2 linked regions of the Homo sapiens genome follow. The protein of the gene in region 1 purifies or fractionates together with the protein of each later gene. This does not show direct contact. Each region holds a gene or a part of one and is shown on either strand. Other genes may lie near its edges.

Evidence for each region.
Region 2: the proteins of SOWAHB (region 1) and DIAPH1 purify together in Homo sapiens (affinity purification with mass spectrometry; one large-scale study listed by BioGRID and IntAct). This does not show direct contact.

What each region holds. Positions count from the first base shown.
Region 1 is NC_000004.12:76,895,856-76,899,769, reverse strand, and holds the start of SOWAHB (ankyrin repeat domain-containing protein SOWAHB), read left to right. Parts: upstream 1-1,625; 5' UTR 1,626-1,920; coding exon 1,921-3,914.
Region 2 is NC_000005.10:141,577,323-141,581,136, reverse strand, and holds part of DIAPH1 (protein diaphanous homolog 1), read left to right. Parts: intron 1-253; coding exon 254-393; intron 394-1,940; coding exon 1,941-2,049; intron 2,050-2,511; coding exon 2,512-2,622; intron 2,623-2,793; coding exon 2,794-2,912; intron 2,913-3,545; coding exon 3,546-3,662; intron 3,663-3,814. UniProt on the Homo sapiens protein: Actin nucleation and elongation factor required for the assembly of F-actin structures, such as actin cables and stress fibers. Binds to the barbed end of the actin filament and slows down actin polymerization and depolymerization.

The sequences.
Region 1 (3,914 bases):
AAACCTTAATTTTAAAAACTATCCTAAAGGCTTGATGTTATGTAGAGACATCAGTGAAAACCACTATCCCTCTCTCAACCCAGTATTGGGTTTGGATCCTAGAAAATGCCAAAAATAGACAAAAATGTTTCCAGTTCTTTTTTTCTGACCTAGATAATGTAAAACCAAAGATTCATTCCTGGAAAAGTGCTAGGGTATTTTTGGGGATTTAAAATCAAGCTCAGTTAATGTGGTCTATAGGGCAGTCACTAAGATTGGTCCATGCTAAAACATGTCTTTGTCAACAATTGTAGGGCCAACACACATACTTTCAATACTCTTTCTTGGCGAGAAGTATAGGAACTATGAGTAATCAGAAATAGAAGAGCAAAAGGAAAAGTGAAAAGATGAGAAGAGTCCATGAGAAAAGAGAGGCAAATTACAGGGAAGGAGAAAATCGAGGTTTTTGAATGGGAAATACAGTGGACATGAGAGGATCTGAGAAACAGACATATTTCCTGTCAGTAGAGGCCGAAGGTAAACAAGGATGTCGTGTAACAGAAAGAAATGGGAAGGCCAAGTTAAAGAAAAGAATGAGAGAAGGCTTGGAACTAAAACAGGTAAAGAGATAATGACAGTGAAAACTATCTCAGGCATGTCAACAGGACTGATAAGGAACAGTGAGGGACATCCAGGATCTCACATCAAAGACAGAAGGGTCAACATGTGGAGAGAGAAAAAGGAAGAGGGATCCCAGCTGTTAGGGGGAAAAGGTGCTGTTAAAGACAGCTCTAGTCTGCATTTTGAACCTTACATTCTGAAAGGAAGCACTTCACCAAGCCAATACAAAACACTGTACAAATCTCTGCTGTTCACAAATTTTAGAGTAAATAAAAGCAAACTAATGCTACACATCAAATACCTTAACTGGCGAGACATAATTCCTAGTTCATTTTAGCCGCCGGGGGCAAGAAGCTATCAAAGTGATTTTTTTTTTCCAGCACCTTAATGTGAGACAAGTATGAAGGAAAGACAAGTATGAAAGAAAAAGTCCCAAACCAATATTGCCCAGTAGTAATTTTCAGAGTGATTTCTCTTTTCAGTATAGACTTGGATGTATTCGGACCCCTTGGAGGGGGCGCCGGAGAAGCGGCCCAGAAAGTATTTCTATATTAAGAAAAATTTAGTTTGGATGCAAAGTGAGTTTTGCGGACCTCAATACAGCCTCGAGAAATCTGAAGTACTCCTCTACAGCGTTAATAAAGAAAGATAACTCAGATTGCCTGTTAACTTGCAGCTTCTCCTCCTCCCCCATCGGCTTCAGCCTGAACTCATCAAAGCACCGGAGGACAGGAACGGACCTTCTATCGCTTTTGTTTCCTGCGTGGCGGAGACTTAGAGGAACGGCCGGTCGCCTACCTGCCTTCCACTTCCCCGGCCGCAGAGCAGTTCGCTGCCGGCTCGGTTCGCCGCCAACCTCACCTACCGGCTGGCTCTCCGGCCTGACTCTTCTGGGATGGGTGGCAGGGGGTGGGGGAGACCTCAGGGGGCGGAGGGACACGAGGAGGCGGGCCTGACCCTTCCCCCAGAGGCAGGGAGGAGGTGCCGCCAGGGCGCAGGTGAAACCGACTCGGCCCTATCCCGGGAACTTTCGCTGTGAGGACTCGTTGCGAGAGGCTAGAGTCGCGCAGGGGCGGCCTCGGAGCCGCCCTCTCTCACGCAGACTGCCGCGGGGACTCAGCCTTGGGGCCACCCGGAGGGGACCCACGGCCCTCCTGGCGCGCTCACGGGCTGCGGGCAGCGCTGGCCTCCGCGGCTGATGGGGGCGGCTAGTGCCGCCCCGGGCGCAGGTGACACTCGCCCGGCCAGGGTTTCCTCTGGCTGGGGAGAGCCCCGGGAGGGCGAGACTCAGACACCTCTGGGGCGGAGGACAAGGCAGCGATGGCCCGAGAGCTGAGCCAGGAGGCACTACTGGACTTTCTGTGCCAGGCTGGGGGCCGCGTGACCAACGCTGCCTTGCTGAGCCACTTCAAGAGCTTTCTCCGAGACCCCGACGCGTCCCCCAGCCAGCACCAGCACCGCCGCGAGCTCTTCAAGGGCTTCGTCAACTCGGTCGCCGCAGTGCGCCAGGACCCCGACGGCACCAAGTACGTGGTGCTCAAGAGGAGATACAGGGACCTTTTGGGGGAGGAGGGGCTGCAGCGACCCCGCGAGCCGCCCGCGGCCGCCCCCAGTGCAGGGGGAGCTGCGCCCTGCTCCCCGCGAGGCGCGCGCCGGGGGGAGCCGCCCCAGCAGCAGCCCAGGCGGCGGCGGCGCGAGAAGGAGCCGGAGGAGGAGCCAGCAGGTGCAGCAGCCAGAGCCGCCGACGCAGCTTGCAATGGACTCCCGGGCAGCGACTCCCGTAGGGCGCCCGGGAAGGGCGGCGGATCGAAGGGCAGTCCCGGACAGAGGCCGCCGGTGCCCGCAGCTGCAGCGGCAGGGGCCCAGGCGAGAGCGAGCTGCGCGGCGGCGAAGACGCAGGGCCGCTGCTGCTGGGAATGCCTCCAGAACAACCTGGCTGTACTGCCGGGAGAGCTCGGCGCACTCCCGCACTCGGCCACCGCGGAGGAGAAGCCGGCACGGGCTCTGCCTGCCCAGGATGACCGCGGGGCTTCCAGGGAGCGGGAAGAAGGCGCGCTAGCTGAGCCGGCGCCTGTGCCTGCAGTGGCTCACTCGCCTCCCGCCACCGTCGAGGCTGCGACAAGCAGGGCTTCCCCGCCTGCTCTCCTGCCCGGCCCCGCTCCCCGCGGAGACCGGCCGGAGCTGCTGACCCCCAGCTCCCTGCATTATTCGACCCTGCAGCAGCAGCAGCAGCGCACTCGAGAGTGGGTGGCCAGGCACCCGCAGGTGCCCGAGGCCCGTGATCAGGGCCCTATCCGCGCCTGGTCGGTGCTGCCAGACAACTTCCTCCAGCTGCCCTTGGAACCCGGCTCCACGGAGCCTAATTCAGAGCCGCCAGACCCCTGTCTTTCCTCGCACTCTCTCTTTCCTGTTGTTCCGGATGAGTCCTGGGAATCCTGGGCGGGGAACCCTTCATTGACTGTCTTTCGCAGCATTCGTTGTCAGCTGTCCCTCCAAGATCTGGATGACTTTGTGGACCAGGAGAGTGATGGCAGTGAGGAGAGCAGCAGTGGGCCCAAAGACTCCCCGGGGGCTTCTGAAGAGGGGCTGCAGGTTGTCTTGGGAACCCCAGATAGGGGGAAGCTCAGGAATCCAGCTGGGGGCCTTTCTGTATCTCGGAAGGAGGGCAGCCCCAGCCGGAGCCCTCAGGGTCTCAGAAACAGAGGGGATGGTCACATCTCTCAGCAGGTCCCTGCAGGGGCTAATGGCCTTGCAGGCCACCCCCTGAAGCCTTTGCCTTGGCCAGTTCCTAAGTTAAGGAGGTCCCTCAGGAGGAGCTCTCTGGCAGGGAGAGCCAAATTGTCCTCCTCTGATGAGGAGTACCTCGATGAGGGCTTGCTGAAAAGAAGTCGGCGCCCACCTCGATCCAGGAAGCCCTCCAAGGCAGGAACGGCACCCAGCCCAAGGGTTGATGCAGGTTTATCACTAAAACTTGCAGAGGTTAAGGCTGTTGTGGCCGAGCGGGGTTGGCGACACAGCCTGTGGGTCCCCAGTGGGGAGGGGTCTGCAGCCTTGGCCCCCCACAGAACTTCTGAGCACAAATCATCCCTGGTTCCACTAGATGCCAGGGAGCATGAGTGGATTGTGAAGCTTGCCAGTGGCTCCTGGATTCAGGTGTGGACTTTGTTCTGGGAGGACCCTCAACTGGCCTTGCACAAAGACTTTTTGACTGGGTACACTGCGTTGCACTGGATAGCCAAACATGGTGACCTCAGGGCCCTTCAGGACTTGGTGTCTGGAGCAAAGAAGGCAGGGATTGTCCTTGATGTAAACGT
Region 2 (3,814 bases), on another chromosome or scaffold:
CTCTTTTTATAAGGACACTGGTCATATTGGATTAAGGACCCTTTCTACCCCAGCAGGACTTCATTGTAGCTTGACTAATTATATTTGCAATGAGTATATTTCCAGATGAGGTTACATTTTGAGGTACTGGGGGTTGGGACTTCAACACTGGAATTTAAGAGGACACCATTCAACCCATAACAACCCGTAAACTTGTCCCCCAGTTAGATGCTTTCGTCTTTCAGCCTCCTTTCTTTGTTCTTGGTCCTACCAGTTTGGAATCAAGACCATGTTGGAGACAGAAGAAGGAATCCTACTGCTGGTCAGAGCCATGGATCCTGCTGTTCCCAACATGATGATTGATGCAGCTAAGCTGCTTTCTGCTCTTTGTATTCTACCGCAGCCAGAGGACATGTATGTGACTGGAATAATTTTTCTTCTCCATTTTCAATTTTATCATTTTCTCTTAGTTCAGAGGACAATTGAGTTGGTTGGGTGTCCTCTCGGTCATAAATACTAGGTAAGATTGTGTTTCTTCCCAGAAGTGAACACTAAGCATCTTAAAATTTAAGAACAATTCCTAAGTGATGGGTGCTATCCTGAATGTTCCACTGGTCATCAGAGGTATAGCAAAATGTCTCCTATATCTCCATTAATATCTGTATTGTCTAGGATGAGGGTTTCTTTTTACTATTCTTTTTTTTTTTAATTCAGAAGTGGCACAATGTTATTTTTAAAACTCAAACGATATAGAAGTATATAAAGTAAAATTTAACTGCCTCATCCCTTTGCCAAATCCTATTCTGCAAAGAGAATGACTGTTAATGGCATGGTATAGTCTCATAGAACGTTTCCTAAGCATAGACAAACATATTGCGTTCCCTTGATTCTAGACATCTGCCACCGCAAAAGATAGTATCTTAAGAGCTGAGGAATGACACTTATGCCTATAAAACTAACTGCATATATAGGATAGATTTTTATTATTGAAGAGGGATTTGGTTTAACCAAAGCTAAATCATTCTTTTCAACCTGTTTCTTTTTAATAGTAGATCTTGGACATTTCTTCTATGTCGGTACTTACAGATCTACCTTATTATCTTTAGTAGCTATTTAGTATTCCATATACATGTATGTATGGCCTATAATTTATTTAACAATTCCCCTGTTGCTGGACTTACAGATTTTTTTTTTTTCCTTTTTTTTTTTTGAGACGGAGGCTCGCTCTGTTCCCCAGGCTGGAGTGCAGTGGCGCGATCTCGGCCCACTGCAAACTCCTCCTCCCAGGTTCAAGCGATTCTCCTTCCTCAGCCTCCCGAGTAGCTGGGACTACAGGAGTCCGCCACCACGCCTGGCTAATTTTTGTATTTTTAGTAGAGATGGGGTTTCTCCCTATTGGCCAGGCTGGTCTCGAACTCCTGACCTTGTGATCCGCCCGCCTCGGCCTCCCAAAGTGCTAGGATTACAAGCGTGAGCCACTGCGCCCAGCCAACTTACAGATATTTTTTAAAGCAGATTTCACTATCTGTTCTAGGTGATCATTTTTACAAATGATACTGCAGTGAACATCCTTGTGCATATCTTCTTTCACATTTATGCCCATATGTTGGATACATTTCTAGAAGTAGACTATATGTTACATGCATGAGAAATTGATTAGTACTGTTAAATGCCCCTCCAAAAGTTGTATCAATTTATACTTCATTGAATAGGGGACTTGATTTGGTATTTATGGACAGGAGCCTAGGGATGGATTGTAGGGAATGCATTTCCCTGAAGAGATGGTCCTTAGCTTTCAGCAGTTTCTGGAAACTGAGTGGTGAGAATAATAATGTGAGAAATCCGGAACACTGATAATGTCCTGTTTCCTAATCGGTCTGTGCCCCTGTGTAATTTACTCATTATACGTGTCCGTGTCACAGTACCTGGAAAGTTCTCTCCGTTTCCTTTCTCTTGGGCAGGAATGAAAGGGTTTTGGAGGCAATGACAGAAAGAGCTGAGATGGATGAAGTGGAACGTTTCCAGCCGCTGCTGGATGGATTAAAAAGTGGAACCACTATTGCACTGAAGGCATGTATATCCCCTGAAACTGGGCCCAAGAATAGAATTCAAGATGGACAGACTTAAATTCATTTGACCTTTTAATAAAATACATGGAGTGCCTCCCAACTATATATTTTACATTTCAGAATCTGTTATGAAGGGAAAATGATTAACCTTCTTTCTAAGAAGGTAAAGAATGAACTGTTTTCCTCATTATGAGATGGAAAAAGGCATGATATCTATTTACAATCTAGGAAAACCAAGACCTACAATAACATATACTCTCAAATCCTTGAAACCATTTAGAGTTTAGGCTCTCCGGATCTGTACTCAAACCAGGTCTCATTGCTATAGTAGAAAAGTCATCTTTAGAGTTTTTGTATTGTATCTTTCAGGTTGTATTGGGGACCTAAGAATGCATGTAAAGAAAATGGATTCTTGATCTCCAGGAGTTAGCATTGACATAGCTGCTGAATTTTCTTATTTTAGGTTGGATGCCTACAGCTGATCAATGCTCTCATCACACCAGCGGAGGAACTTGACTTCCGAGTTCACATCAGAAGTGAACTGATGCGTTTGGGGCTACATCAGGTGTTGCAGGTAAGATATTACACTTCATTAGAAAGGCTAGACTGGTTCCTTCTTGCTCTACAGCCCCAATAATCCCGGGGATAATTCTGGTTTTCAATTAAAAACCAGGTTGAAAAGCTTAGGTTTCTAACCACAGAGGATACTTTTGGGTTCCCTGACTTCTACTTTTGTTGTTGACAGGACCTTCGAGAGATTGAAAATGAAGATATGAGAGTGCAACTAAATGTGTTTGATGAACAAGGGGAAGAGGATTCCTATGACCTGAAGGGACGGCTGGATGACATTCGCATGGAGATGGAATATCCTTTTGCTGACTAGGTTCAAGGCAGATGAGACATTCATTGTATTTAGTTCCCTGATCCCTGTGTGGAATGGTTTGGGAGATGATGACTCAGAACAGAGCATCAGGCTTATGTGTCTTCTCATTAAATAAGGCAGGTGTATTTTTATTGCGCTGGCTTTACTTAGCTTATCATAGATCAGGGAAGTCAGTAAAGGTGATCTGAGGGTTGTTGAGCATGGAAGCCATCAAAATCAGTGTAAACTTCCTAGAATGTGATAGCTTAGCTTACTAAGATGTAGAACTGGCTTTTAGAGATGTTTGGACTGACAGAGGGAGTAATTTAGTTACCTGTTAATATTTTCAGTAAGTGACTTTGAGGCAGTTACCTCTTATTTTCTGTCTACTGCCTGATCTTCAAGCCAAGTACTTACTAGGAATCCTCTGTGTGTATAGTACCACCCAATTCACTGGTCCCTTAAAGGACGTTTTAGAAAGCTTAAAGTTTCTGGTGATGTTTACAGGAAGAACAGCCAGTAGAATGGAAGTGGTGTCTTGCTACTTTTCCCTAGCTTTTTCAAGAGTTAAATAAGCCACCTGTCAAACATAATTTCTGCATATTTGCTTTCCTTAGCCTATTTCCCTTTTCCACTGACTTTAATGAAGTCTTTCAGATTCTCTTAAACACAGTGAAGGATTCAAAGGCAGAGCCACACTTCCTTTCCATCCTGCAGCACTTACTCTTGGTCCGAAATGACTATGAGGCCAGGTAAGATGCTGTGCTTATGAGAAGTTTTGAATTTGAGCCTAAGTGGAGAGAGTGAATTCCTTAAATTCAAAGATTGTTCTGTAAAAGGAAAATGTAAAGACAAAGACCCAAGATTAGGGTTCATTAGTCACCGATATAAAGGAAGTTGTCTT